4 linked regions of the Homo sapiens genome follow. The protein of the gene in region 2 purifies or fractionates together with the protein of the main gene of each other region. This does not show direct contact. Each region holds a gene or a part of one and is shown on either strand. Other genes may lie near its edges. The genes, in order: RBM28, STK36, SARNP and MKI67.

Region 1 (7,590 bases), on a different chromosome or scaffold from region 2:
ATCACAAGCATTCTTATACATCAATAACAGACAAACAGAGAGCCAAATCATGAGTGAACTCCCATTCACAATTGCTTCAAAGAGAATAAAATACCTAGGAATCCACCTTACAAGGGACGTGAAGGACCTCTTCAAGGAGAACTACAAACCACTGCTCAATGAAATAAAAGAGGATACAAACAAATGGAAGAACATTCCATGCTCATGGGTAGGAAGAATCAATATTGTGAAAATGGCCATCCTGCCCAAGGTAATTTATAGATTCAATGTCATCCCCATCAAGCTACCAATGACTTTCTTCACAGAATTGGAAAAAACTACTTTAAAGTTCATATGGAACCAAAAAAGAGCCCGCATTGCCAAGTCAATCCTAAGCCAAAAGAACAAAGCTGGAGGCATCACACTACCTGACTTCAAACTATACTACAAGGCTACAGTAACCAAGACAGCATGGTACTGGTACCAAAACAGAGATACAGATCAATGGAACAGAACAGAGCCCTCAGAAATAACGCCGCATATCTACAACTATCTGATCTTTGACAAACCTGAGAAAAACAAGCAATGGGGAAAGGATTCCCTATTTAATAAATGGTGCTGGGAAAACTGGCTAGCCATATGTAGAAAGCTGAAACTGGATCCCTTCCTTACACCTTATACAAAAATCAATTCAAGATGGATTAAACACTTAAACGTTAGACCTAAAACCATAAAAACCCTAGAAGAAAACCTAGGCATTACCATTCAGGACATAGGCACGGGCAAGGACTTCATGTCTAAAACACCAAAAGCAATGGCAACAAAAGACAAAATTGACAAATGGGATCTAATTAAACTAAAAAGCTTCTGCACAGCAAAAGAAACTACCATCAGAGTGAACAGGCAACCCACAAAATGGGAGAAAATTTTCGCAACCTACTCATCTGACAAAGGGCTAATATCCAGAATCCACAATGAACTCAAACAAATTTACAAGAAAAAACAAACAACCCCATCAAAAAGTGGGCGAAGGACATGAACAGACACTTCTCAAAAGAAGACATTTAGGCAGCCAAAAAACACATGAAAAAATGCTCACCATCACTGGCCATCAGAGAAATGCAAATCAAAACCACAATGAGATACCATCTCACACCAGTTAGAATGGCAATCATTAAAAAGTCAGGAAACAACAGGTGCTGGAGAGGATGTGGAGAAATAGGAACACTTTTACACTGTTGGTGGGACTGTAAACTAGTTCAACCATTGTGGAAGTCAGTGTGGCGATTCCTCAGGGATCTAGAACTAGAAATACCATTTGACCCAGCCATCCCATTACTGGGTATATACCCAAAGGACTATAAATCATGCTGCTATAAAGACACACACACACGTATGTTTATTGCGGCACTATTCACAATAGCAAAGACTTGGAACCAACCCAAATGTCCAACAATGATAGACTGGATTAAGAAAATGTGGCACATATACACATATGCAGCCATAAAAAATGATGAGTTCATGTCCTTTGTAGGGACACGGATGAAATTGAAAATCATCATTCTCAGTAAACTATCGCAAGAACAAAAAACCAAACACCGCATATTCTCACTCATAGGTGGGAATTGAACAATGAGAACACATGGACACAGGAAGGGGAACATCACACTCTGGGGACTATTGAGGGGTGGGGGGAGGGGGGAGGGATAGCATTGGGAGATATACCTAATGCTAGATGACGAGTTAGTGGGTGCAGCGACCAGCATGTCACATGTATACATATGTAACTAACCTGCACAGTGTGCACATGTACCCTAAAACTTAAATAATAAAAAAAAAAGACAATACGCGCACAGTTGAACATAGACCCTTATCAGTAGTTCTGTTTTGCCTTTTGTCTTGTTTCCTCAGAAGCATGTGATCTTTGTTCTGCTTTTGCCCTTTGAAGCATGTGATCTTTGTACCTACTCCCTGTTTTACACCCCCTCCCCTTTTGAAACCCTTAATAAAAAACTTGCTGGTTTGAGGCTCAGGTGGGCATCACAGTCCTACTGATATGCGACGTCACCCCCGGCAGCCCAGCTGTTAAAATTCCTCTCTTTGTACTATTTCTCTTTATTTCTCAGTCGGCCGACACTTATGGAAAATAGAAAGAACCTATGTTGAAATATTGGGGGTGGGTTCCCCCAATACTTCTGTATTTTTCAGATTCTCTTTACTGAGCATATATTATTTTTACAATCAGAAAAAAATGAACGGATTTATTTTCAAATGCCCCCCATTGCTCTTCTTTAAATATACAGAATATATTCTTTACATATAAAACACTGCTCCTTCAGAGCCAAGCAAAGGATCACTCATTTTCCCCTTAACTGAGAACAAGGGCTGCACATGAACAAAACGCCTGCTTTAAAATGTACCCATGGCTGGATGCTGTGGCTCACACTTATAATCCCAGCACTTTGAGAGGCTAAGGTGGGTGGATCACTTGAGCTCAGGAGTTTGAGACCAGCCTGGGCAACATAGCGAAACTCTGTCTCTATAACAAATACACCAAAAATTAGCTAGGCATGGTGGTGTGTGCCTGTAGTCTCAGCTATTTGCAAGGCTGACGTGGGAGGATCACTAGAGCCCAGGAGGTCGAGGCTGCAGTGACCTGTGATTACACCACTGCACTCCAGCCTGGGAGACAGAGTGAGACCCTCTCTCTCAAAAAAAAAAAAAAATGTACCCATATTTGTTTTCATCAGGTATGGTAAGATGACAGACACAGAGAAAACTATCTCTGCAAGAAGAGTTTGTTATGCAGTTCCCAGGAGGAGAGGTGTGTCACGCCTTGCAGGGCCACACAGGAAGAACTTGGGTCAGCCAAGAAGCAGAGGGGGTGAGGGAAAAGCACGATCCAGCGCCTTTAATGTAGTTTCCAGCAGAAAGGCAAGGCAAGGCAGGGAAGCAGGCTTAGGATTGGCTAATCTGTATAACTTTGGCAGGCCCTGGCTATAGGGATTGTCCCTAGTTGTCCCATGCCTGGCCCTGGAGTGATTTAGGGCAGGGGGAATATTGGCTTGCTGTGTCAGAGTTTGATAAAGGAGGTGACTGGGGGTGTGGGCTCTGGATTGACTGGTTTGCATACGAAAGGCACGCTCGACCAAGTTGTTTACTCTCTCCCCAAAGTAGCTAGCCCTGGGAGGGGCAGTCTCTCCAGGATAATGCATTATAAAAACAACAACAGCACCTGATTAGTATAATGACATATGTTTCTCTTCACAGCAGTTTGTAATAGCAAAGGTTGGAAACCGTTGAATGGGATTTCCATCACATAAAGAACTGGTTATGTAAATTATGTTACACTGATACAATCCAATGAGCCTCCCTTCAGAGAGAGGCACCCTCATGGCCTAATTACTTCTTTAAGGACCCCATCTCAATACTATCACATTGGCAATAACCTGAATTTTGGAAGGGACACATTCAAACCATAGCAGAGATGTAATCAAATTAAGATGAAATCATTGGGCTGGGCCTAAGCCAATATGACTGGTGTCTTTATAAGAAGAGGGAAATTTGGACATAGACCTATAGACACAGGGAGAAGATGGCCATGTGACAACGAGGCAGAGACTGCAGTGATGCATCTATATGCCAGGCAACGCCAAGAAATTCCTCATGAAGGAACCAACCTTGCCAACACTTTGATTTTAGACTTCTAGCCTCCAGAACCGTAAGGTGATAAATTTCTGTTGTTTAAGCCACCCAGCCTGTGGTACTCTCTTACAGTAGCCCTCCTGACTAATATAGGCCCTTTCTCAACTTTCCCTAGAAGCCCAGGTTTCCTTGCTACAACCCTGGCAGAGGCTTTGGCACATTTCACCCCTCCTCTCTTTGTGATTGGTTTTCACAAAGAAGCTCAAAGTGGAGGAATGATCTCTGGACATGAAGCCTGAGGACCATGCAAGCTCCTTCCTGCCAGAGGCTCTGTTCTGGGTTCTACCTGACCTGGACTCTGAGGGCTCTGAGCAGGGAAGGGTTAGAACCCAGCGTGGATCAAACATTTGAGATGAATCAGCACTGATAGCTGGAATGTGAGCTCCCAAGTGGCTTGAGCTCACTCTGCTCAGGACCCTCTGCAGCTCCTGGGGGAACACTGGCACAGACGGGTGCACAGTTAATATTCAGTTAACACCGGCTGGCTGAATGAAGGGCGAGCTATCTTGAGCCTGACTTTTCTGATCCTTCAATGAGCATGCTAACATCATCCAACCCCTGACCTTGTGGTGAGGATCAAAGACGTTAATGCCCACTAAACGCTTTCTACGATGCCTGGAAACAACTGTTATCAATACTGTGCTATGTTTTAGTAAAGAGGGCTGTTCCCTGAGAGCAAAATTGGCAAGTGGGTCTCACCTCCCATGCTGACTCCAATTGTTGGGTGCGGTTGCATGGATTGATGTCAAAAGCCTCCCAAGGCCCAGTCTGGGCCAGATGCAGGGACTGTCATGATCCCTTAGCAGTGTTTGCTCTGGAAAAGGAGGAACAGGGACCTGGGTGCCATCTCTTCACAGCGCTCCACCCCTAGGGCCTGCTTAAATGGCACAGCCAGCTCCTCAGAGAGACAGGACACACTCTCCTTCTGCCTGCAGTTGTGAGGAAAGAAGGGGCACTGAGGAGGATGGGTCACCCCGGGAGCAGAGCCTGGCTCATATCCTGGTATCCCTGCAGAGGCTGGAGGTGGGGCCAGCACCACCTGAGGACATGTAGCCTTCCCAGGATTCTGGCGTGTGTTCCCATCCCTAGCAGGAAAGAAGTGGAAATTAGCCAATCACCCTGGAAGTGGGCAACCAGTCTTTCTCCCCTTTCCTGTGAATTCACTCAGGACACTGGGGACAAAAGACATCACAGACCCTATCTCCCGTGCTCTTTTACAGTGGCTATTTCATTTAGTACTAGGGGGCTTTTTGCCTGTATTTTATAAATGAGCAAAGAGGACTGGAGGGTCTGAGTGATTTGTCCAGGGTCATCCTCTGTCCTTTGGCTTTTACCTGTGTCACCACAGCCTCCTGGGGAGATGGCTGTGAAAGTGGGCAAAGGGTGAGTCTCAGCTTCACAGGGCTGCAGCATCAGCAGCCTCTCTTGCCTGTCCGTCAGCACTGACAGGGGCAACACCTGGCCTGGCACAAGGCTCTCCGCTTCTTGCCCTCAGGACTTGGAGTCTCTTGGAAGGAGCCTCAGCCCTTCTCTTGGTTCCTGCTTTTGTCTCTAGCCTTCCTAGAGTAGCTCAGATCAGTTCACACCCCTCTACCCACGACTACCCAGGAAAGGACATGATCCCTCATTAAGACCCAGCTATTGCCTAAGGGTCACTGAGGGCCTCAAACCCCAGAGGCTCTGTGGCAGGCACCTGGGAGCCCACTTGGCGGGCCTTGCCCTGGCCCAGACATCACAGACCACTCTCACTGCACTGGCTATTAAGTGCCTGCTCTCTACTAGGGATTCCTAGGGGGTGGCCAAGAGAAGGAAAGACACCCCCACAGGAAGGATGGGCCCAGAAACTGACTTTCCATGGCTCCGACGAGGGGTCCTGAGGCACTCTATCGAAGTGCAAGTCCCTGAATCTGTGTCCCAAGCTCTGAAAATGCAAGAGGTGCTTGGAGCAAACAGGGAGTGTCCTGTCACTGAAGGTCTGCAAGCAGAGGGGTAAGGGACTGTTTGCCTCCTACAGATTTCCCTTCTTTCTCTTCTTCTGGGCCTCTGGGCCAGAGACAGGCATTTTACTTGATGCGATCATCCTCAGCACATGCCTGACACATAGTAGGTGCTCAGTAATTGTTAGCTGTTGTTATTAACCATTATGTGAGTTTAGAGTGCCCGTCCTATTGCAGAGAGGGAGAGAGCAGAGACAAATGGTGATTCTAAGAACCTGTCCCCTTCCCTGGGACTCACTCCAGTGGCTGGTCGCCAGTTGCACCCACACGCGGCTGGCTGCGGGCAGGAGAGCTGGGCTCATTCGTTCTGGCAGCTGTCCCTGCAGATGAGGATCGAGGGTATGTGACTGCCTGAGCAGCTACTTCAATCCTAATGTCCCTTTAATAGCTCTCGTCAAATTGCCACAGCTCTCCCCAGAGATTTTCATGGCTATGGAAAATAAATAGCCATTATCTGACCTCCAGGGGAATGAAGATGTCTGCAGAATTCGGGGAAAAGCAGTTATAAAACTGAGTAGAGCCAGCGCACCCTTTCCCTATTAGCAACCTCTAAGGGAGTCCTAGCTACTGCCTAGGAAATCACAAAATAAATGTATTCACTCCTCAGACTCTCTTTTTTCACCTATTAGTATGTATATGAGTACATTTGGCTTGTGGTAGATCAGGAGAGAGAAAGAAAGAAAAAACAACTACAAAAATATGTAATGATTAGTTAGTCCAGGGGTAGCAGGAAAAGAAGCTGGTCAAGTAAAGGGTTTAATCCTTTTTTATTTTTATTATTTTTTTAGACAGGGTATCACGCTGTTGCCCAGGTTGGAGTACAGTGGTACAACCATAGCTCACTGCAGCCTCAAACTCCTGGGCTCAAGCAATCCTCCTGCCCCAGCCTCCCGAGCAGCTGGGACTACAGTGCACACCACCACACAAGGCTAATTTTCAAATTTTGGGCAGTTTTACTATGTTGCCCAGGCTGGTCCTGAACTCCTGGCCTCAAGGGATCCTCCCATCTCAGCCTCCCATAGTGCTGGGGTTACAGGTATGAGCCACCAAGCCCAGCTGGAAGTTTTTAAAACGTTTCAACATTCAAAGAATGTGAGAATGAAAATGCCCTTCCTTTTCTTACCACCTAATTTGGAAAAGAGAAACTATTTTTTTAATCCCAAAAACATTTGGTATAGCTGGCAAAAAGTGTTCTGTTCTTATATATGAGACAGTTCCTGAAATAGGCCCTAGAGACAGCACTCACGGCCAAGTGGGACCTTGCTCTGGTACTAGCTCAGGTGGCCAAGGGGTTTCAGGAGAGGGTCTGGACTTCCCCACATCCTGCTTTCATCAGCTCTAAGACTAGGTGGTGACATCTGCTTCTCAATAACCTTCACCAGGCTTGCTGTGAAGGTCACCTGAGATAAGAGACGTGAAAGGATGCTGAAGATGCAAAAGCCTAAGCCAGGCAGCCCTGCTTGGCCTGGCCTCCTGGAAAGGGGCAATGCCCCAGCCCAGCACACAACCAGGGCCTCATGATGACAATTCTGCAAAACTGGTCCTTGGCTCGTCCTCCCTTGCCAGGATGAGACTGTGCAAAGCCCCACCCACAGGCAGCTGCTCCAGGTGTCGTTTAAGGGCTCCAAATTCCTTCCAACTAAAAGTATCTTTCCATCCCTGTTGGTATAGTGGTTAGGGGAAAAAAAATTAAAAGAAAATGAACAATGTATTTTCCACGTCAAGATGCCTGAACTTCCCATAACAGCTGTCACTTTAAGAAGCCATAAGAGAAAGGGCCAGGTCTCCATAGGTCATTATTCTTCCCAGGCGGGGTCAACTTCCTCTATTAACACCCATGCACGTATCAGAAGCTACCCATGAAAGGCCAAGGGCCTACAGCAAAGCTCCCATGACTGGAAAGTATTTA
Region 2 (7,590 bases):
TCAAGTAATCCTCCCACCTTGGCCTCCCAAAGTGCTAGGATTATAGGTATGAGCTACTGCCCCCAGCCCCCATTTACAGTTAATCATTATTCCCCTTTTTATAGCTGGTTAGTATTCCGTTATATGGATATATCACATTTTGTTTATCCACTCACTAGTTGATTAGATATTGATGTATTGGGTTGTTTCCACTTTTTAGCTTTTATGAATAATGCTGCTATGAACATTCACAAGCAAGTCTATGTATGGATAAATGTTTTTATTTCCCTTGGGTAACTACGTAGGAGTAGAATTGCTGGTCATATGGTAAATTTATATTTAACATTTTAAGAAACTGCTGAACTATTTTCCAAAGTGGCTGTACCATTTTACATTCCCACCAGTATTATATGAGGGTCCTTGTTTCTTCACATCCTTGTCAACACTTGTTATTGTCTAACTTTTTTACTATAGCCATTCTAGTAAGTGTGAGATAGTATCTCATTGTTATTTTAATTTACATTCCACTAATGATGAATGTTGAACATCTTTTCATGGCTTATTCACCATTTGTATATCTTCTTTGGTGAAATATCTCAAATCTTCTGCTCAGTTTTTAATTTGGTTGTTTGCGTTATTGAGTTGTAAGACTTCTTTGTATATTGTCAACATAAGACCTTTATCAGATGGGTGATTTGCAAATATTTTCTCCCAGTCTGTGGTTTGTCTTTTCATTCTTTCTCATAAGAGTGTCTTTTGAAGCAAAAAATGTTGAATTTTGATTTAAGTTCAGTTACTGTTTTTTCCCTTTGTGGTTCATACTTTTGATGTTGTGTATAAGAAATCTTTTCCAAATGCAAGGTCTTAAAGATTTTCTCTTTTCCTAAGTTTTATAGTTTTAGCTCTTACATGTAGGTTTCTGATCCATCTTGAGCTAATTTTTGTATATAATGTGAGGAAAGGATCTAAGTTGATCGTTTTTGCATGTGGATATATAATTGTCCTGGCACCATTTGTGGAAAAGAACTCTCCTTTCCTCATTGAATTGGCTTGGCACTTTGCACTTGTCTTTTGGCGCTAACACGTTTTCCTCCTAGTGTTGGATAACTTGCAGTGTGGGGAGGCAGACTGAAAGCTCTGCCTTTAGGGATAAGACTCCCTCTGGTGGAATTCCAGCTGCACTACTCATTAGCTGCGTGATCTTGGACTACTTACTTGACTTATGCAGAAGCTTCAGTTTCTTCATCTATAAAATGGCTAATTCTATTTATTTCACAGGGTTATTGTAAATATTAAATGAGCAGATGCCAACATTTAGAACAGCTAATGGAATATTATAAAATACTTGGTGTAAATGTTCTTCTTTTGAAGAATAACCATTTAAAAATACAATACTGGCCAGGCATGGTGGCTCACGCCTGTAATCCTAGCACTTTGGGAGGCTGAGGTGGGAGGATCACTTGAGGTCAGGAGTTTGAGGCCAGCCTGGCCAACATGGTGAAATCCCATCTCTACTAAAAATACAAAAATTAGCTAGGTGTGGTGGTGGGCACCTGTAATCCCAGCTACTTGGGAGGCTGAGGCAGGAGAATCACTTGAACCCAGGAGGCAGAGAGGTTGCAGTGAGCCAAGATTGCACCATTACACTCCAGCCTGGAGGACAAGAGTGAAACTCTGTCTCGAAAAATAAATAAAGGGCAAAAATAAATAAAAATATAATACTATCCTTAGCATGCAGGCTGTATACAAATAAATGTTAGGCTGGATTTGACCTGTGAGCCATAGTTTGTCAACCCTGATCTAGAGTTGAATAATGTTGTTTTGTCTTTCTGTGGTTAAATAATATTGTTTTATATGCATTGTTTTGAATTTTCAGAAGCATGTGCGGTGCACGTGTTTTTTGTTTTTAAGGTGAAGGGCTGGAGAAGGGAGGGAGCAGATGGGAATGGCACTTAGTCTGACAGAGATCCTGAGGAGAGGCCCCTATCCGTTGGTCACTGGTGTTCTGTGTTAGGTAACCTGACCATCTATTGTCTTCTTCCCTGGTACAGTTCCCCTATTTCCCTGCTTTCCTTCTCTGTGTTTTAGACTTGCAAAGAAAGGAATGCAAGCATGTGGTCTGCTTTCCCAGCTCCTTGGGGATGCTTGGTATGTGTAGTTCTCCTTCTTTTACCTCTGAAAATATCAATCGTTGCCTCTTTCCCTCATGTCACCCAGATCCTGAAAGGCATCTTGGAGGGTGCTTCCCACATCCTGCCTGCATTCCGGGTCCTGAGCAGTCTTCTCTCCAGCTGCAGTGATTCTGTTGCCTTGTATTCCTTCTGCCGGGAGGCAGGGCTTCCTGGGCTGCTGCTGAGTCTACTCAGGCACAGTCAGGAGAGCAACAGCCTCCAGCAGGTAAGCACCAGGCCAGAAGCCTCTGAAGACTTACAGAGGTTCTTTTTCTTGGATTTATCTCATTCAGATTGCCATCTCTCTTTGGTCTGACTGCCTTTTATTTTCTTTCCTCCTCTTTCTAGTTAGTAGACTATTAATTGCAAACTCTAATGCCTTCTGGGGCCAGGCAGATAAGGTCTGCCATGAAGTAGGCTATGCATGTGACTATATGAGTTGTGGGGAATATGATGAACTAGAGTTCACATGCCTCCTCTAAATAGAGTAGAGGCATCCTTTCCTCAGCCTCCAGCCCATTGTTGCCACAGGGAAATATGGGCCTGAGAAAACTAGCCAGATCTTCTAGTTTTCTAAGAAAAGGTAGAAACCCAAATTTTTATGTGTAATTTTTAAATATTTAGAGCGCTGTGCTTTGAAATGTTAGATCCTAGGCTTCATTGACCTGATCTTACAGAGCAGAGTACTAAAATTCAGAGGTAACTCATACACAGTCACTAATTTGTAAATGGTCACAGAGATAACAAGTGGAAGAGCTGGGATAGAGACTCAATGTGTTTGGGGCCAAACCTCTACTTCCCCCTGCTGTGTCCTACGGTAGCTGGACTGAGAGGATGGGGAATGTTTCAGAGTCAGTGTAAATGCCTAATAGGGCCTAGGATGAGGCAGCTGGAAAGCTGCACTTTGTTGATGAGTATTAATCTTGGGTGATTTTAAGGAATTTAGAGAAAAAGATTTTTGAAAAATAGAACCTCCTATACTCCAAAATGCTATTCAGGCCAAACAAGACACATTTAATCCAGGCTGTTCACAGCCCATTGGCAGATTCTCTGTTACCCCTAGAACTCTCTCTCTGCCTATACTTCTCTTCTGTCCCTTTCTGTTTGATCAACTTGACTGGGTCTCTATACACCCTTTCTACTGTTTTTTCTATTCTTTGTTTCCATCCTTCACATTGCCCTTACTCTCTTCTCCTTTTCCTGGGCAGCAATCTTGGTATGGGACCTTCTTACAGGACCTGATGGCTGTGATTCAGGCCTACTTTGCCTGTACCTTCAATCTGGAGAGGAGCCAGACAAGTGACAGGTAGGATAAGAAGTGCTTTTGCATTGTTGGCAAGTTTGGCTTCTGTTTCTACCCCAAGTGCCCTTCCCATTTAGGAACAGGCCAAGTATGAAGAAGCTGTGATTTGTTACAGGTTTAGGAATCAGCTGAGTGGCCACTCATAGTCCTTTTAAGGACCCTAAGACAGCTCCAACTTGGCCTCAAGACTTACAGTTTCTAAGAGTCAGCAGTCACCATGGTCCTAAAATGGAAGGGTCAAGATGTGAATAACCTATTCCAGGAAGCCAATTGGATTAAAGAAAGAAAGAAAGAAAAAAAATATGCGAATAACCTAGAGAAAATGGCAAAGAAGGGGCTTGGAGGGTGTATGTGTGTGTGTGGCAAGGGAGAAGGGAGGAACATTCTGATGTGTCCCTTTGCAGAGATTCTCCTACCTGCCCAGGACTGACCCATTCACCACATCCAGGCTTTTAGTAGAGAGATAAGAAATCATGGGCTCATTTTCCACCCCCAGCCTGCAGGTGTTTCAGGAGGCTGCCAACCTTTTTCTGGACCTGTTGGGGAAACTGCTGGCCCAACCAGATGACTCTGAGCAGACTTTGCGGAGGGACAGCCTTATGGTAATCTGCTCCCACTTCCAGATTTCTGTGTCTCCTATCATTCTCCGTGTTTCTCCCATCCCCTTTCTTATGACTATGTAGGGTCAGATCAAGTTAATATGACAAACATTTGTTAAATTCCCACCATGCCATATGCCATGTGAGTAAGAAAAAGTGCCTGCCTTCAAGGGACTAGGGATAATTTAATAGGGGAGAGGTAAAGGGATTAAGGACAACAGTGAAAAGTACATTAGAACTTTGCATATAATACAAGAGCACTGCTGTATTTTATGAAGAAGATGCAGTTAACCACTGCAGAAGATGCACTTAACACTATTTGGAGTATCATAGAAGAAATCTCGAAGAAGGAAATCATCTCTGCTAGCATTTGAAGAATACATCGCAGTTTGCCACGTAAATGAGGCACAAAGTAGAAATTCTATACAGAAAGAGTAACATATATAAAGGCCCAGAGGCTTTAAGCAGTTTGGCATATTTCAGGGGACCACAAATAGAACGACTTCTTCTTGAAAAGACTTGCAGATCATCTAGTATTGTCTAACCTCGTTTGTCCTGAGGATTAGTAGACTATGCAGTTCTTTTCCCTAGATCCTGGAGGTAAGGGACAGGAGAATGGAGGATTGAATGAGAAAATAGCTGTGTTCTGACTAACCTCAGAGGAGATAGAGAGGAACATATATTTGTAAGGAAGTAAATAATTGCCTGGTCATTGTTAAAACTGGTAATTGGGAACATAGATCTGGACTACTACTTGCCTTTAGCTAGCATTCACTCAGACTTTCCTGGTCTGAGATCCTGTTTTAATATCCCTCACCCTTTCAAGTCAGAAAGCTTTTACTGTCTAACCTAAATTTTGGCCAGCAGTGACTCATGCTATTGGCCAGCACTTCTCATGTCATATGCTATGAATAGAATGGGGAGTTTGGAATAATTACCTCCTGAAATTCTGAATCAGTAGGACTGAGTTGGGAGGGACCCAGGAATCCCTAGGATTTCTTCTTTTCTTTCCTTTTTTTTTTGGAGACAGGGTCTCTCTGTCACCCAGGCTAGAGTGCAGTGGCATGATCTTGACTCACTGCAACCTCCACCCTCCGGGCTCAAGCAATCCTCCCATCTCGGCCTCTTGAGTAGCTGAGACTATGGGTGCACACCACCAGACCTGGCTATTTTTTTTGGATTTTTAGTAGAGACAGGGTTTTGCCATGTTGCCCAGGTTGGTCTCAAACTTCTGAGCTCAAGTGATCCACCTGCCTCGGCCTCCCAATCCCCTGTTGGGATTACAGGCATGAGCCATTGCACCTGACCCCTAGGAATTCTTATACTCACAGTCTATAAAAAATACTTTGAGAAACATCATCTAGGGAGCATCTGATCAGAGAATAGAAGGATTGACACCTAAAATTATTGTCCTTGAAGCATGAATGAAAGCAGTTCTAATGCATTTTTGGTGTGAAGAATGCTTAAAATTAGACATGTGTTTGCTTTGGTTTTTGTCCTCTTTCCTCAGATCCTCAGGGTTTTCTTGTTTTTTACACTAAGCCCAGTCTTCTGATGCCCTGATGCTACCTCTGCACTTCTCTCCTTTAGTGCTTTACTGTCCTGTGCGAAGCCATGGATGGGAACAGCCGGGCCATCTCCAAAGCCTTTTACTCCAGCTTGCTGACGACACAGCAGGTTGTCTTGGATGGGCTCCTTCATGGCTTGACAGTTCCACAGCTCCCTGTCCACACTCCCCAAGGTAACCAGAGTGGAGAAGGGAGGTTCTCTTGACTTACTTGTTGCATAGGTCAGGCTCCGCTCTTTCTATTGCCATCACCTAGATCGCACCTGGCATTTAGTAGGTGCTCAATAAATAACTGTGAACTGAGAGAATGAATGGGGATCTGAGGGAAACAAACAGACCTCATCCTGCATTCTTCCCACTCCCTTAGGTTCCCTACTCCTGCTGCCATGTCGGTGAGTACTGGTGCTATTGTCTAGGGCAAGAGCCTCAGGCCTTTGGAGTTACTCTTTGCTTTTCTCCACAGGAGCCCCGCAAGTGAGCCAGCCACTGCGAGAGCAGAGTGAGGATATACCTGGAGCCATTTCCTCTGCCCTGGCAGCCATATGCACTGCTCCTGTGGGACTGCCCGACTGCTGGGATGCCAAGGAGCAGGTCCGAGCTACAATTGGTTGTTCCTCTCATCCTACTGCCAGAGGAATTGAGGAGGCTAGCCCCAGTTTTTCAGAAAGGCAGAAAAACAAGCTTTTAAGCCCCTCCTTTAGTACTTCCAGAAACAGATGCTCCCACCCTGGGCCATTTGTAGAACATGATATAGCCAGAATCCCAGAGCCCATGGCCAGTTGGTGAGGGAGAGAGCACAGTGATAAACTGCCCAGATGGTGGGGCAGCTGATCTGAAGCCTCCAGTGATGCTTCCTCAAGGGCTGAGAATTCAGCTTTCCTGATCCCTGTTGGTCGGTAATCCTTTCCTCTGTACCTGGCTACACTGGGGCCAAACTAGGCCATGACTTTTGGTTCTCTATTGGTGATGAAGACTGGGAATAGAATGGGGTCTGAGGTTTCTGGTGAATGTGGGAAGAGTGACTAGGAAGAGACTGAGAGTCCTGATCATTTTGGACATATGTGAGGAATAGGGTTGTAATCATGTGGATAGGATTGAGCCTTCAGGTATGTCTCTATAGGTCTGTTGGCATTTGGCAAATCAGCTAACTGAAGACAGCAGCCAGCTCAGGCCATCCCTCATCTCTGGCCTGCAGCATCCCATCCTGTGCCTGCACCTTCTCAAGGTAATCCTCTTAACTCCTGGCATCACAGCTTTATTTTTAACTCCCAGTGCAGACAGAGAAGCAGAGAAACAGACCAAGAGAGGAGGACTAAAAGAGAGAGAGACTGAGAGAGACCATTTGAGACACCCCCTTGGAAGACTCCTTTCTGCTTTTAAATCTGTTCAACTGAGAGGACCCCACTGTTAGCCAGTCCTCAGCGGAACCGAGAAGGGTCCCTGTCTCACTATCTCATAGCAAGAGGCAGAAGGGGGTTCTCTCACACTCCCAAGTGTGGGTACCAGATCTTTTGAGGGGCTGGCCGGTGTTTCCGCTGAGCCTTCAATCTTGGAGCCCGGGGCCTGCCCTGCCTCACTGCCAGACTCCTTCCTTCTCCCTCAGGTTCTATACTCCTGCTGCCTTGTCAGTGAGGGCCTGTGCCGTCTTCTGGGGCAGGAGCCCCTGGCCTTGGAATCCCTGTTTATGTTGATTCAGGGCAAGGTAAGCCAGCTTCCCCTGGCAGCCCCACTGTCTCAGCCAGAGGTTGTTCTGATATCTTAGGTTTCCTTTGTAGGTAAAAGTAGTAGATTGGGAAGAGTCTACTGAAGTGACACTCTACTTCCTCTCCCTTCTTGTCTTTCGGCTCCAAAACCTGCCTTGTGGGTAAGTCATAAAGTAGGGTGTCTCCACAGAAGTCTTCTAGCCACATAGCTAACCCTCACAAAGAGTATGGGGAATGGTACCCTACAGCATATCCTTAGGAGGAATTG
Region 3 (7,590 bases), on a different chromosome or scaffold from region 2:
AATATTTGCCCCTGAAGCTCCCCTTATCTGGTCTAATCTAGCTCCAATAAATCAAAGGAGCACCTAATAAAACACATTGTTCTCTTTTCTATTTTTTTTTATTAACAAGCAACATAATCAAAAACAAAAACACAACAACCTTAAAGCTGAAACAGCAATAAGTCAAACTGCTGCCGCAGTTCATGGATGTACCTGGGGTACATGCTCCCTCATTGCGAGGCAGGACGTAGGCACATGACTGTGCATTTAGGCATATATGTGACCAAGAAGAAGGAGAGAAATGGAAAACACTGGAGAACAGAAAGTATCAGGAACTTTTCATCAGGCAATCCCAAAGCGCTCTGCTCTTTTCCTCTTCTTTGCCTGTAAAGAAGAAGCAAGAAGAAAAAAATTAGACTGAAGACAATAGTTGCCTGGGTTCCTGGCTGCTTTAATCCAAACTCACATGAACTGTCACAAGGCCCGAGAAGGAAGGATGGCCCAGACTTGAGCTTGGTAGCTAGAGATTTCATTCCTGAATCTCTCCAATCCTTCCAGTTATCCAGTAGGAGCTGGAAAGTTTAATGGGTAAGGAGGGTGAGGAGTAAAGAAGATTACTGGGGGTGAGGGACAGAGAGAAGAACAGTGGTAGAAAATGGGAAGATTCCTGAAGCAAAGAGAGCCACTCAGCCTGAGATCAAGCTAGCCTGGAAACAATGGGCTCTTAACAGGCTGGGAAAAGTCTTCCAGTCAATGGGGAGACGGAAGATTTCAGAGGATAAAGGATTAACCAATGCTATTCATAGAGGTGAAGGAGATGCCCTTCTGAGCAGTCAGGCCCAGACAGTAGCTATTCCTTAGGACTCCAACCCACAAAAAAGGCATATAAATCTTTGATGCCAACAGAACGAATAGGGAGTGAGTGGTATGTGGGTGAGTCCCTATCATAGATCTCTTAAAGGAGACAGCAACACTGGAGAGGACACAAAATGGTGAGGGAAGACTTCTGGTTCTGGAAGTGACTCACAGAACAGCACCAAGTCCTTCATGGGCACTCCCAACCACTGCCCCTAGCAGAATACAAACTCCTCTGGCTTTTTTCTAGTGAAGAGTGTTAGCTGATCTGACTCTAAAATTTTCAGGGTTTAATTTACAAGACTGACTCTGATACTTATTCATGAAGAAGCTTTTCATAGGCCAGGCATGGTGGCTCACGCCTGTAATCTCAGGACTTTGAGAGGCCGAGGCAGGCAGATCACGAGGTCAGGAGTTCAAGACCAGCCTGACCAACACGGTAAAACCCCGTCTCTACTAAAAACACAAAAATTAGCCGGGTGTGGTGGCACACGCCTGTAATCCCAGGTACTCAGGAGGCTGAAGCACAATAATCACTTGAACCCGGGAGGCGGAGGTTGCAGTGAGCTGAGATCGCACCACTGCACTCCAGCCTGGACGACAGAGCGAGACTCCATCTCAAAAAAAAAAAGAAGCTTTTCATAAAGCATCATCCTGTTGGTACTGTCCTCAAGATAGTAAGTTCTTGCCAGATATGGCTGTTTAAGGCCTTCCACCATGATTGTAAGCTTCCTGAGGCCTCCCCAGAAGCCAAGCAGATGCCAGCACCATGCTTCCCATAAAGCCTGCAGAAATGTAAGCCAATTAAGCCTCTTTTCTTCATAAGTTACCTAGTCTCATGTATTTCTCCTTTACAGCAATGCAAGAACAGCCTAATATACTTTTTTTTTTTTTTTTTTTGAGACAGTCTTGCTCTGTTGCCCAGGCTGGAGTACAGGGGTGCCATCTGGGCTCACTACAACCTCCACCTCAGCCTCTGGAGTAGCTGGGACTACAGGCACATGCCACCACACTCAGCTAATTTATTTTAAACTTTTAGTAGAGATGAGGTCTCACTATGTTGCCCAGGCTAGTCTCCAACTCCTGACCTCAAGTGATCCTCCCACACTGCTCTCCTAAAGTGCTGGGATTCTTTCATTTTGAGAAACTATCTGTAAACAAAGTGACAAGAACAGGAAGTCTCATTTGAGTCCACTGTCCTTTTCCAGAAATGAGTTAGGCACAACCAGTTCTTATTAAATATTTTAAAACTATCCCTTTTTATACAGAATCGTTTCACTCTTTAAATAAAACTTTGAGGTAGGTTTTATTATCTCCACTTCCTAGATGATGAAACCTGAGGCTCAGGAAGTACTGTAACTTATTAATACTAAGTGGCAAAGCCTTTTTCTTTTCTTTTTTTTTTTTTTGAGAGCAAGTCTCACTCTGTAGCCCATGTTGGAGTGGCGTGATCTTGGCTCACCGCAACCTCTGCCTCCCGGTTTCAAGAGATTCTCATGCCTCGGTCTCCAGAGTAGCTGGGATTACAGGCACATGCCACTGCACCTGGCTAATTTTTTTAAATAAGTAAATAAATAAATAAATAAATGTATTTTTAGTAGAGATGGGGTTTCACCATGTTGGCCAGGCTGATCTTGAACTCTCGACCTCAGGTAATCTGCCTGCCTCAGCCTCCCAAAGTGCTAGGATTATAGGCGTAAGCCACCATGCCCGGCCGCCTTTTTCTTTTTTGAGACAGGGTCTCACTCTATTGCCCAGGCTGGAGTACAGTGGCGCCATCCAGGTTCACTGCAGCCTTGACCTCCTGGGCTTAAGTGATCCTCCCATCTCAGCCTCCTGAGTAGCTGGGACTATAGGTGTGTGCCACCACGCCTAGCTAATTTTTGTATTTTTAGTAGAGACAGGGTTTCTCCATGTTGCCCAGGCTGGTCTCAAACTCCTGGGCTCAAGAGATCTGCCTGCCTCAGCCTCCCAAAGTGCTAAGATTACAGGCATGAGCCACCACACCCAGCCCAGAGCCAATTTTAGAATCCAAGCCTACCTGATTCCAAACGTTATACTCTTTGCCACTAGTCTAACAGACTCTAACACTGAATTAAGTATATTGATGGAATTCAGTGTTGCCACTTCACCCAGAAAAAAAGTTATCAAGAAAAAAGCAAAATATTTGGACACTTAAGAAGTAGGTGGGTGGCCAGACATAGTGGCTCATGCCTATAATAATCCCAGCAATTTGGGAGCTGAGTGCAGAGGATCGCTTGAGCCCAGGAGTTTGAGACCAGCCTGAGCAACAGAATGAGACCCCATCTCTACTTAAATAAATAAATAATTAAGAAGTAGGTGGGAAAACAGTGTTTCTCTACTCAGTTTATTCACTCTCACTTCCTGGGCAACAGAGACCCCAACTCGACTTAAATAAGTAAATAAATAAATAAATAAATAGGTGGGGAAACAATATTTCTCCATTCAGTTTATTCACTCTAATTTCCCTTCAAGGTCTATGAAGCGTTCCAGGTATATTTTTACCTCTGTATCCTCTGTGGTTCCAGTTCCAGCTGAACTTGTGACAATCCCAAATCGCTCCTTCCTCTTTTTCAGTTTCTCATCATCTTCAGACTGTTCAAGGACAAAGGAAAGAGTTGAAACAAACTAGCCTCCATTCACCAAGTAAATGGGAATGAAATGATAACTTATTGGTCACAAGGTGCTAACCAACCCTGTGCCAAGAACTAAGGATCACATAAAGAGATAAGATACATAAGAAACTGAATAAGCTAGCATATACTATGTTGTACCTAGAATGACTAAAAACTTAATTTTAGGCAGGGCCTCAATACTCATAAGACAAGTAGGGTAAAGAAACAGTAAGAGGCCGGGCACGGTGACTCACACCTGTAATCCTAGCACTTTGGGAGGCTGAGGCGGGTGGATCAGGCAGTCAGGAGTTCAACACCAGCCTGGCCAAGATGATGAAACCCCATTTCGACTAAAAATACAAAAAAATTAGCTGGGTGTGGTGGCGGGCGCCTGTAATCCCAGCTACTAGGGAGGCTGAGGCAGAGAACTGCTTGAACCTGGGAGGCAGAAGTTGCACTGAGCTGAGATTGCACCACTGCACTCCAGCCTGGGTGACAGAGTGAGACTCTGTCTCAAAAAAAAAAATAATAAATAAAATAAACAGTAAGAAACACCCATAAAACAAATTTCTATGCTCAAGCAATTCTGGCAGTTGAGGGATATGGAAAACTGAGGTTTCACTGAATAACACCCAAAGTTACACCTAGTAACACCTAGTTAGAAGGTACCCAAACTACTTGTTGAACAATGCTTACACGTTACCAAGGAAAGAAAGGGGAAGAGGGCCAGAGTGGTATTTCTGAAAAACTTATTTGCTTGAAACACCCAGCAAAGCCATAGAAGGCTCTGAATAGTTTGAAATGATTCTTAAAACAGGTGAATCAAGGTGACAGCCATGGTCAACTCTCTAAGAGAAATGCTGTGGACATTTTCCAAGCATCTGTGAAACTCATGATGTCTGCCTGGGAATGAGAGAATATTTCAGTTTACCATGAGTTGGAGCTCGCCATTATTCTAGGTGTTTTGTATCATTCATGTCCAACACTGCTCAGTATAAGAGTCTATATATTTTCCTATCAGAACCTAAACCCTACCATTTTATTTAGCCCACTTTAACAGTTATTTTCTCTTTCTCCACCTCCCCCTCACATCTTATCACCAGTCATCAGAAGCTCAGCCTCAGGATTAGAAAACATCTGAAATCAGGTAGGCTCCTCGGGTGTCTTTCCCCCAGGAAGGACTTTCTAAAATTTGGCACATATATAAAAAGATCTCATTCTCTCATAATCTCAAGAGACCCTCTACTCCCTAGAGATGTACCCATCCTCACTAAAGAGCAGGACAGTTTCTTTGACTTTATTTACGTTGTTAACCCAACAGAAGGACAGATAAGCAAGAGTTCAAACAAGGGCACAGTGGCTCACACCTGTAATTCCAGCACTTTGGGAGGCCAAGGCAAGCAGATCACTTGAGGTCAGGAGTTGGAGACCAGCCTGGCCAACATGGTGAAACCCATCTTTACTAAACATACAAAAATTGGCCAAGCATGGCCGCAGGTGCCTGTAATCCCAGCTACTTGGGAGGCTGAGGCAGGAAAATAGCTTGAACCCAGGAGGCGGAGGTTACAGTGAGCTGAGATCATGCCATTGCAGTCCAGCCTGGGTAGACAGAGTGGGACTCCGTCTCCAAAGAGTTCAAACAAACTTTTTTTTTTTTTTTTTTGAGACAGAGTCTTACTTCGTTACCCAGGCTGGAGTGCAGTGGCACAATCTCAGCTCACTGCAACCTGTGCCTCCCAAGTAGCTGGACTACAGGCATGTGCCACCATGCCCGGCCAATTTTGTATTTTTAGTAGAGACGGGGTTTCTCCATGTTGGTCAGGCTGGTCTCGAACTCCCAACCTCAGGTGATCCGCCCACCTTGGCCTCCCAAAGTGCTGGGATTACAGGTGTGAGCCACTGCGCCTGGCCTCAAACAAACTTTTAAAGAATGTCTGTGTGGTGCTTCTGAGCTGGATTTGTTTTTAAATCCCAAGGAAATTATAGTCCTACAGTCTATAGGCAGGCTGTGTCTCTGGGTGTCCCAAAACTACAAGGTCAAAAGCAAAGGTAACAAAAAGACCTACAGAAATATACAGCAATTTTTCAATGCCTCTACTCTCAACCCCAACCAAGGAGTTGTCTTTGTCCCTGTGGCCACAGCAGCCACCTGTACAAATCAAAAGCAGGGCAGCTATCCAGCTTTCTGTGCTCAATTTAACTAGTCCACCTGTCTGAACACAGCAGGCAGGAGTACTGTCTTGGTCTTTAACTCTTTCAGCTTGAGAAAGATGTTCATTTTCTCCCTTTTGCTGCACCTGCTTTCTAGTGAGTAGGAAGAGACCTAAGAAAGAATGATGGTTATGAAGCAATTAAGAATCCTATACAAGTTATCATTTAATCACAGTTTATTACTAGAATAAACTACTGCCTACACAGTTTTTCTGCCTTTCTCATTATGACCACCAGCAAATCCATAGCGGGTACCTCATTAATGTACTCTGAACTATTGTAAAAACATTAAGCCAGGTTCAAAGAAAAACATAAGTATTCTTGTCCTTAATAATAATAAATTAAAATAATAACATTATAGCCATGAACATCTGAGTGCTTAGTATATGCCAGGTACTGTGTGCAGTTCTTTACACATGCAATATCTCATTTACTACTTTTTTTTTTTTTTTTCCCCAGAGACAGAGTCTCGCTCTGTCGCCCAGGCTGGAGTGCAGTGGTGCCATCTTGGCTCAATGCAGTCTCCACCTTCCAGGTTCAAGGGATTCTCCCGCCTCAGCCTCCTGAGTAGCTGGGACTACATGCGCACGCCACCACACCTAATTTTTGTATTTTTAGTAGAGATGGGGTTTCGCCACGTTAGCCAAACTGGTCTCGAACTCCTGACCTCAGGTGATCCGCCCACTTCGCCTTCCAAAGTGTTGGGATTACAGGCGTGAGCCACTGCATCCAGGCTCATTTACTACTTTATTTTAATTTTTGCAGAGAGGGGGATCTCGCTATGTTTCCCAGGCTAGTCTTGAACTCCTGGGCTCAATCAATCCTCTTGCCTCAGCCTCCCAAAGTGCTGGGATTACAGGTGTGAGCCACTGTACCTGGCATCATTTACTTCTTATAATAATCCTATGGAGTAGGCACAGCAATTAAATTCATTTCATAGATAGGAAAATTTAGTCTTGGAGAGATTAAGTGACTCACCCAAAATTTCACAAATAATACGAGGATTGGAATCCAGGACATTTTACTCAGGAATCCACTTTCTTAGCCTTACCACCTCCTCAAGGTATCTCACTTAAGTATTTCTTTGGAAGAACAGTAGGACAATTAAGTGCTTAACTCCCAAGGAGGAAGGATCACTAGAACCCTTAGCTAAAAAAACTTGTAAATTTTAATCACATCACTCAAATAATCAGGTCAAGAATACTAGGACCCCTTCTTCTAACGTACCATATACCTACAATTTATAAGTAACAGTATCTAGGAAAAGGGCTCCAGTTAGTAATCTTGTACTAATGTTTTTCTCAGCTAAATCTGGTTCTAATTTTGCTTAATTGGCTATTCCATTTGTTGAGATGTAATAAAAGAATAAGGGGCTGGGAGCAGTGGCTCACATCTGTAATCCCACCACTTTGAGAAAATCCCAGGAAGGATCTTCTAAAATCCTGAGGTCGGGAGTTCGAGACCAGCCTGACCAACATGGAGAAACCCCGCCTCTACTAAAAATACAAAATTAGCTGGGCGTGGTGGCGCATGCCTGTAATCCCAGCTACTTGGGAGGCTGAGGCAGGAGAAGCGCTTGAACCCGGGAGGTGGAGGTTGCGGTGAGCCGAGATCTCGCCATTGCACTCCAGCCTGGGCAACAAGAGCGAAACTCCATTTCAAAAAAAAAAAAAAAAAGAATAAGGCTGGGCGCAGTGGCTCACACCGGTAATCCCAGCACTTTGGGAGGCCGAGGCAGGCAAATCACAAGGTCAAGATATAGAGACTATCCTGGCCAACATGGTGAAACCCCATCTCTATTAAAAAAAATACAAAAATTAGCTGGGTGTGGTGGCGAGTAGTAGTCCCTACTCGGGAAGCTGAGGCAGGAGAATCACTTGAACCCGAGAGGCGGAGGTTGCAGGGAGCC
Region 4 (7,590 bases), on a different chromosome or scaffold from region 2:
ACTTGTCTCTTGGCTCCTTGTGGCAATAGGAAAATGGGACAGAAAGTCTTCCTGCCTGGAATTCGAGAACGTTTCCTCTTATATTGCTGTCCTGTTTGGTGGTGGTAATAACCCTGTCCCTGTATAACAGGTATAGTTGCTGACAGTGCCCCATCAGCCTCTGACATGTGTCCCACTAGAGGCCTGAGAAGGGGGGTCATTTCCCGTGTGGTCATTTCCCAGACCACACGGGATTCAGGCCTCACCCTGTCCTCCCAACCCCATCCCGGCCTCACCCTGTCCTCCCAACCCCATCCCCTACCTTGTTCCTCCCGCCTAAGGCATTCCAAGCCTTTGTTCACCTTGGTACTTCTTACACACTTGGAAGTTTACAATGGGAAAGTTCTCCCCTTCCTCAAGCTTGTGTGATTTCCATCATTCAGGCATCAGGTGAAATGTCACCTCTGAGGAAGCCTTGCATGAAAACTTGTATTTCCAACCCCACAGCTTCAGGGGTGAGTTGTGGGTTTGTCTCCCACTAGGCTGAGCTCCCCAAAGGCAAAGACTGTCTTGTTACTAATCACGTGTGTAGGGCCAGGGATGGTGTCTGGCATAGGGGGTGTGATCAATACCTAGCATTCTGGCAAGGGTCAGTAGAAACATGGGCTGGAGCCATGGATTTGCAATCTCTTGAGAACAGTGGTTCTCACAGGAGGGTCATCTAACCTTCCAGGATTCATTTGAATTTCCATGTCACAATATAGGACAGGGGCATGCGCTGTCATCGCGGAGGAGAGGTCAGGGTGGGCATCCTACCAGGCTCAGGGCAGCCCCCACAATACAGAAGCATCTGGCCCAAGATGTCAACAGTGCCAAAGCTCAGAAACACCCATCTATAGTCGTCCTCCTGCCAAACAAATTCTCAGTTGTAAGGGATAGTCTTTCCTTTGCTCTGATGTCCTGTTACCTTAAAATCAAATTATTTTATTGGGGTTAAGGAAGCTTTTCACTTTCCATAGATACCTTTCTCTTGAAAAGGAAAAATATAAACATTTCATCTCCAGTGGCAGTCCTTTTGCTTTTTTATACAGTACTCCTTGAATATATCTTCATGCAAGATTTTATAATTTAGAAATAATTCCTAAGTGTTTGGTCACATGACCTGGGTAGGAAGAGAGATTCTTAGACTCCAAAGGTTCAGATGGAGAACAGACAGGCCATTGCATAGTTTATTCAAATTTTTAAGATCACAGGCTAGAACAGGAACACTGAAGACTCCAAGAACCTACTAACAAACTCTTCTGATTATTAGTTTGTATAGGTTTAGGAATTGTCTCTTCTGCTACTTTGCCATGGTGTTAGCTTTCTGTGGAAAAACAAGTTGAATTTAGATTTTTTTTTTGTGTCGCTTGCAAATTAGTATTTTTATTGTTTAGAGACTTGAATCTGTCAGTAAATTCAGTGTAGTTTTAAAACAACAATGAAAAGCTTACCCATAATGAGCATTTACTATGTGCTAGGCAAATTAGTGACATGTACAACCATTTAATTGAACATCACATGATGTAGGTTCTAATGTAATTTCTTTATTGTATATGAAGAAACTGATGCACAGAAGTGCTAGCATCAAATAAGCACATTTGGGGATGATTAAACCTCTAAACATATTTAACATTACAAACAAACGTTTTTGAAAAAGCACAGAGTATTAAAAATAGTCATTATCCAAAATTGATGTAAGTATTCCTTTGTGTCTTTTAAGTATAGCTTTTCATATAAAAGGTAATTCGATTTGTGTTCTAGTGTTTTCCCTTGTTTTTACATACTCTCTGTTTTAAAGATCTAATAGTTACATGTTTAATACTTCCAAAAGTTCTTTGCAAAATGCAAGATCGTTTACATTGCCCATTTTGTTTGTTACTCCTTTATGTCATATTTACAGATCAAACATTCTAGTCAAATTGTGTTTTATTTTGGGAAATTGAGGTAATCTTTTAAAAAGTTGCAGCAACCAAAAAAACCTTCTTCTTTTGCATGAAGGGGTATTGAATGTGACATCCGTATCCAGCTTCCTGTTGTGTCAAAACAACATTGCAAAATTGAAATCCATGAGCAGGAGGTGAGTGGGTTTTTTGAAGATCTACTTTTAAAGCTTTTTAGTTCACTTTTAATCTGTTCATTAGTTACATATTTCCCCTTCTTTTCACTTGCAGGCAATATTACATAATTTCAGTTCCACAAATCCAACACAAGTAAATGGGTCTGTTATTGATGAGCCTGTACGGCTAAAACATGGAGATGTAATAACTATTATTGATCGTTCCTTCAGGTAGGTAAAAGCTGATTGGTCTAACAGTAAATGTCATCTTCTGATTAACCATAAACTAGTGTCAAAGTCAACTGTCATTCTTCTTTAATGTTCATGGATGTCAAAGTATTTCAGGTTTTCATTCTCAACACTAATCTTAATTTAAAAGGATATGGATCTAGGAAGATGACTAATTGGGACAAAATGTGATGGAATTCAAGGATTTGGGTGCAAATAATTATGCAGAGGGAGGTTGACCTTGTCCTAAAGGAGTTTGTTATTTTCTTCCAAGTGTTTTGAAACTGCATGAGATTTTTCTATTCTTTTTTATTTTAAAGCAAAATATACACAGAGAAAAAGGTACAAAACAAGATGGACAGGTCAATTTATCATGTGAACACCCTTTTGATCACCACCTATTATGGACTGATTTGTGCTCTCCCGAAATTCATATTTTGAATTCCTAACCCCTCGTACCTTAGGATGTAACTGTATTTGGAAAGAGGGCATTTAAAAAGGCAATGAAGGCTTTTTGAGCTATTAGTATGGGCCCTAATCTGATGATTGGTGTCATTATAAGTGGAGATTAGGGAACACGTGCACAGAGGAAAGCCCATGAGAAGAGGCAGCAAGAAGGCAGCCATCTTCAAGTCAAGGAGAGAGGCACAGAGAAATCCAATCCAGCTGACACCTTGCTCTTGGACTTCCAGCCTCCAGCACTGAGAAGGGCATGTCTGTTTTTCAAGGCATTCAGTCTGTGGGACTTTATTATGGTGGCCCTAGCAGACTAATACATCCTCAGCTCATATAGAACATTTCCAGAAGCTTTTTAAAAATGCTGTTGTCTAATCACTACTTCATTCCCTCAGCAAGTAAACCACCGTTTTGGCTTTTAGGATATCATAAACGTCTCGAGTTTCACTACCTAAGCATGGATCTCTGAACACGATAGTTTTGTCTGTTCTTATAAAAGTCCTTAACAGTGATACAAGAATGTATACATTTGTGCCTGGCTTGTGCTTTTCTGTGTGTGAGATTCATAGCATGTTGGACATCTCTGTAGTTTGTTCCTTCTCATGGCATAAGTATTTCACTGAAAAAAAAATGTTTAATATATACAATAATATACATAACTATACAGAATTCATTCATTCTTGATGGACATTTGACTAATGTCTAGTCTTTGAAATGTGTCAAGGTTTGCTTTATGAGCAGATATGGCTAATTATCTTACTAATCTGCCTTGTGTAATTGAAAACTGTATTCTACAGTGTCTCATATATATGTAATATATAATTATTATATATATCACTTATATAATATATAATTATAATATATTATATATAATCATATATAATTATAATATAATATATAATATTATATAGTATATACTATATGTTATATAGTAATATATAATATAATAATATATATTATATATACCATATAGTATATACTGTATACAGTATATACTATATGGTATATATAATACATATACAATATATATACAATATATTTATATTATATAATATATAATATATACATATATAATATGTAATATATATACACATATACAGATACACACACTCCCGTTAGATTCAAATCTATAATCTTAGTAAATTTTCCCCTACTATTATTCTAAGAGATATGTTCAAATCACCTACTGAGGATTGATTGATTGATTTGTTTTTATCTCTATCAGTTTTTGCTTTGTATATTTTGAGGCTGTACTATGGTGTACAAACTTAGAATGATGTCTTGGTGCATGGAACTCTGTCATTTAGAGATGTCCTCTGTTTTTAGTAGTGCTTTCTTTTCTGCTTAATGTTTCCTTTGGATGATGAGTATGGTTAAACTAATTTCCTTTTGATGAGTGCTTGTGTAGTATAACTTTTCCACCCCCTTAATTTTAACTTTTCATAATTGTTATGGTTTAAGTTGTCTCTTGGAACCTGTTGTCAGGTGACCTCTTGTGTTTAACTGGAATATCTTCTTGCTGGATTGATCCTTATATAAAATGTCCTTTTTCTCTATGAATAACTTTTGTCTGAGATGATTTTGTCTCATGTTAGTACAGTACTCCAGTTCCCCTCTGCTTGCTGTTTGCATGGTATATCTTTTCCCATGCTTTTATTTTAAAAGATTGTGTCTTTGAATCAAAATTGCGTCTCTTGTAGACAACGTATTAGTTGGGTCATTTAAAAATCCATTCTGCTAAATGAATCTCTGTTATTGTCTTCATTTGTATTAGCTGTTTTTTAATGCACCACTTAAATTCCCTAGTCATTTCTTTTACTGTGCTTCTGGGAAGTTTGCCTTCATTTTTAAAGAGTATTTTTATTGAATACAGACTTCTATGTAGGAAGTTTTTCTTTTTTTCTTTTTCTTTTTGTTTGTTTGTTTGTTTGTTTTTGAGACAGAGTCTTGCTCTGTCACCCAGGCTGGAGTGCAGTGGTGTGATCTTGGCTCACTGCAACCTCCGCCTCCCGGGTTCAAGTGATTCTCATGCCTCAGCCTACCAAGTAGCTGGGATTACAGGCACGCGCCACAACACCCGGCTAATTTTTGCAATTTTTAGTAGAGACGGCGTTTCACCATGATGGCCAGGCTGGTCTTGAACTCTTGGTCTCAAGTGATCCACCTGCTTCAGCCTCCCAAAATGCTGAGATTACAGGCATGAGCCACTGCGCCCGGCCTATAGGTAGGAAGCTTTTGATGTTTATTGGAGGGCTGAACTATTTTTCAAAACAAGATATTATCCAAATTGAGATAAATTCAGATGATTAAAGACATCCAACAAAGATTTGAAAGTGAATCTTAGAAAGAGAGACTTGATTCCAAACTCTCTACCATGAGAAATAATATCAGATGTGTGACTGCTTCAGATCTTACTTAGGTTGCCTATAAATTCAAATCAGGTCATTTCACTGAGGCCAAAAGTTTTCATTATGCAAAATAAAGGATTGCTTCTATGACTTGATCACTGAGGTTTGCCAGGACAATTATGTATCTTGCTAAAGGTGATCTTCTTAAGATGTACCTGTCTTGTTCAGATACAGACTGAATGTGTGGGAAACTGAAGTGATCATAGTGTTCTAAAATATAGGTTTGTAGTTACCCTGTAGTGTAAGTGTAGCTTTTTATTTACCCTGAAGTATGTAACTTCACAACGTGAGAAAGATTCAGTTACCTACAGGCTTCCTGGCTGGCCTTCCAAGCCATCCGATGATTTCCATGGACTTAAACTAGAAGAAACTTGACTTTGCTCTCATGTGCATTAGCTTATGTCATAGAAGGTGCTTGGTAATATTGTCAAATCATACCTGGGCTGTTCGTCAGTGATCAGAAGTTAATCTGGGTCCCCAGCCTCTGACAGTGGTATTTCAAAACAAACTCGATGCAACTAATCCTAGTTTTTAGTGTAAAAGCACTTTTCTAACTCTAAATTTATTTCTTTGTATAAGGTGATGTCTTGAACTAAACCCAAAGTTTGTTCGTTGATCCTTGGACATTAAGTGGATATGGAGACTTCCGCCCCAGGGTATAAATTTTTAATCAGGATCTTTGTCGTTCTATAAACTGCAGGTATGAAAATGAAAGTCTTCAGAATGGAAGGAAGTCAACTGAATTTCCAAGAAAAATACGTGAACAGGTGATAGAAAATATCCAAGTTTGGGCTGATTCGTTTCGATGATATGAAATCATTTATGTATGCTTTAATGATTTCTTACTTGAAATCAGTTACAAAGAGGGTGGTTACTGTTATAGTAGGAAAATGTAACTAAAGTATAAAAACGAGTTGAACTTAGACGTATTAAAATAATCTAAAATGATATTTCCTCTTTATTGTTCAAAATCAGAGCACTAAGTTGGTCTTACACTTTTAGCCAAAAAGTCTATTAGAGCATGTTGCGAGCTTTTTGCAAACCCATGATTAGGATAACCCCAACACGTAGAGCTAACATTTGGGAATTGCATTATCTGGTGGCTCATTTTGTCGCCCAGTCATTGTACTCATCCGTCTTTATGTGTCTGAAATAATCACATTATGAAAATCATGAGTGCCAAAGATGCTTCTCTATTTTGATAGATAGACGACCCATGAAACAGGAAAAGGGATCCTGTGCTTTGTCTTGTGAGAGAATCCTATAGTTTGAGTGTATCAGTGTGGAACAGGTATTCCAATTGTACAGCTTATGAAAACATAATTGTCGACACGTGCTTCGCAATTTAGATAGTTTGAGTATATCAGTGTGGAAGAGGTATTTTAGTTGTACAGCTTATTAAAACACAGTTGTCGGCATGTGCTTGGAAATTTAGTGGGATTTAGGCTTAGGATGAGCCCTGAGAATTCATATTTTTCCTACATTTTAGAGTGCTCCTAAAGCTAGTTTCAGATGAGCTCCTTGGAATATCTTGGCTTAGGAGAGTTATCTTAGGTGCACCTGAAATTAGCAGTAGGTACTCTTGAATTTCAACATTTCTGCCTTTTTTTTTTTTTTTTTTTCTGAGACGGAGTCTCACTCCGTCACCCAGGCTGGAGTGCAGTGGTGCGATCTTGGCTCACTGCAACCTCCGCCTCCTGGGTTCAAGCAATTCTCCTGCCTCAGCCTCCCGAGTAGCTGGGACTACAGGTGCACACCACCATGCCTGGCTAATTTTTGTATTTTTAGTAGAGACAGGGTTTCACCATATTGACCAGGCTGGTCTTGAACTCCTAACCTCGTGATCCACCCACCTGGGCCTCCCAAAGTGCTGGGATTACAGGCTTGAGCCACCATGCCCAGTCCATTTCTGCCATTTAAGTACTGCCTTCTTCCCTAGAGGAGCAGCCTTAATGTTGAATCTGATGGTCATCAGTTCCCGTGCTGGAAGCCAGTTTCTGAGGCATCCCACACTGTAGCCACCAGGCAACTTGCTAGTCTATGGGAGTAAATAAACCAAAAAGCCAGTTGAACTGTGGGTTAGATATGTGCCACTCAGCAGTCTAGGAACTGTTTGTTCTGTTACTGGTCTGTGATATAGTGAGTACTGAAATGGAGTATGTAGTAAATATGACAGCAATTCGACAGCAATTTTGTGGCTATTGAATGTAATCGTACAACAAAAGTGAGATTATATACTTTACATATTCATAATTTTATTAGTGGTTCATTTATATTGTTTAGTCATAAGATTCTTGTTCCACTTCAGATTGGAAATAAAAAACCATCCCTCACATAGATAGTTTTAGAAGCAAGGTGTTACGTATCAAGAAACCTAAAATTGATTAAGGAAGTTAGATTCTTTGCCTTTGTTAATATTTT

The links.
Region 1: the proteins of STK36 (region 2) and RBM28 purify together in Homo sapiens (affinity purification with mass spectrometry; one large-scale study listed by BioGRID and IntAct). This does not show direct contact.
Region 3: the proteins of STK36 (region 2) and SARNP purify together in Homo sapiens (affinity purification with mass spectrometry; one large-scale study listed by BioGRID and IntAct). This does not show direct contact.
Region 4: the proteins of STK36 (region 2) and MKI67 purify together in Homo sapiens (affinity purification with mass spectrometry; one large-scale study listed by BioGRID and IntAct). This does not show direct contact.

What each region holds. Positions count from the first base shown.
Region 1 is NC_000007.14:128,296,325-128,303,914, forward strand, and holds the end of RBM28 (RNA-binding protein 28), read right to left. Parts: 3' UTR 1,361-7,590; downstream 1-1,360. UniProt on the Homo sapiens protein: Nucleolar component of the spliceosomal ribonucleoprotein complexes.
Region 2 is NC_000002.12:218,686,501-218,694,090, forward strand, and holds part of STK36 (serine/threonine-protein kinase 36), read left to right. Parts: intron 1-2,196; coding exon 2,197-2,376; intron 2,377-3,358; coding exon 3,359-3,456; intron 3,457-3,949; coding exon 3,950-4,055; intron 4,056-5,642; coding exon 5,643-5,793; intron 5,794-6,082; coding exon 6,083-6,210; intron 6,211-6,739; coding exon 6,740-6,844; intron 6,845-7,222; coding exon 7,223-7,321; intron 7,322-7,394; coding exon 7,395-7,483; intron 7,484-7,590.
Region 3 is NC_000012.12:55,757,191-55,764,780, forward strand, and holds the end of SARNP (SAP domain-containing ribonucleoprotein), read right to left. Parts: intron 3,451-7,590; coding exon 3,361-3,450; intron 364-3,360; coding exon 322-363; 3' UTR 80-321; downstream 1-79. UniProt on the Homo sapiens protein: Binds both single-stranded and double-stranded DNA with higher affinity for the single-stranded form. Specifically binds to scaffold/matrix attachment region DNA. Also binds single-stranded RNA. Enhances RNA unwinding activity of DDX39A.
Region 4 is NC_000010.11:128,117,599-128,125,188, reverse strand, and holds part of MKI67 (proliferation marker protein Ki-67), read left to right. Parts: intron 1-2,019; coding exon 2,020-2,098; intron 2,099-2,192; coding exon 2,193-2,308; intron 2,309-5,869; coding exon 5,870-5,936; intron 5,937-7,590. UniProt on the Homo sapiens protein: Protein that associates with the surface of mitotic chromosomes and acts both as a chromosome repellent during early mitosis and chromosome attractant during late mitosis.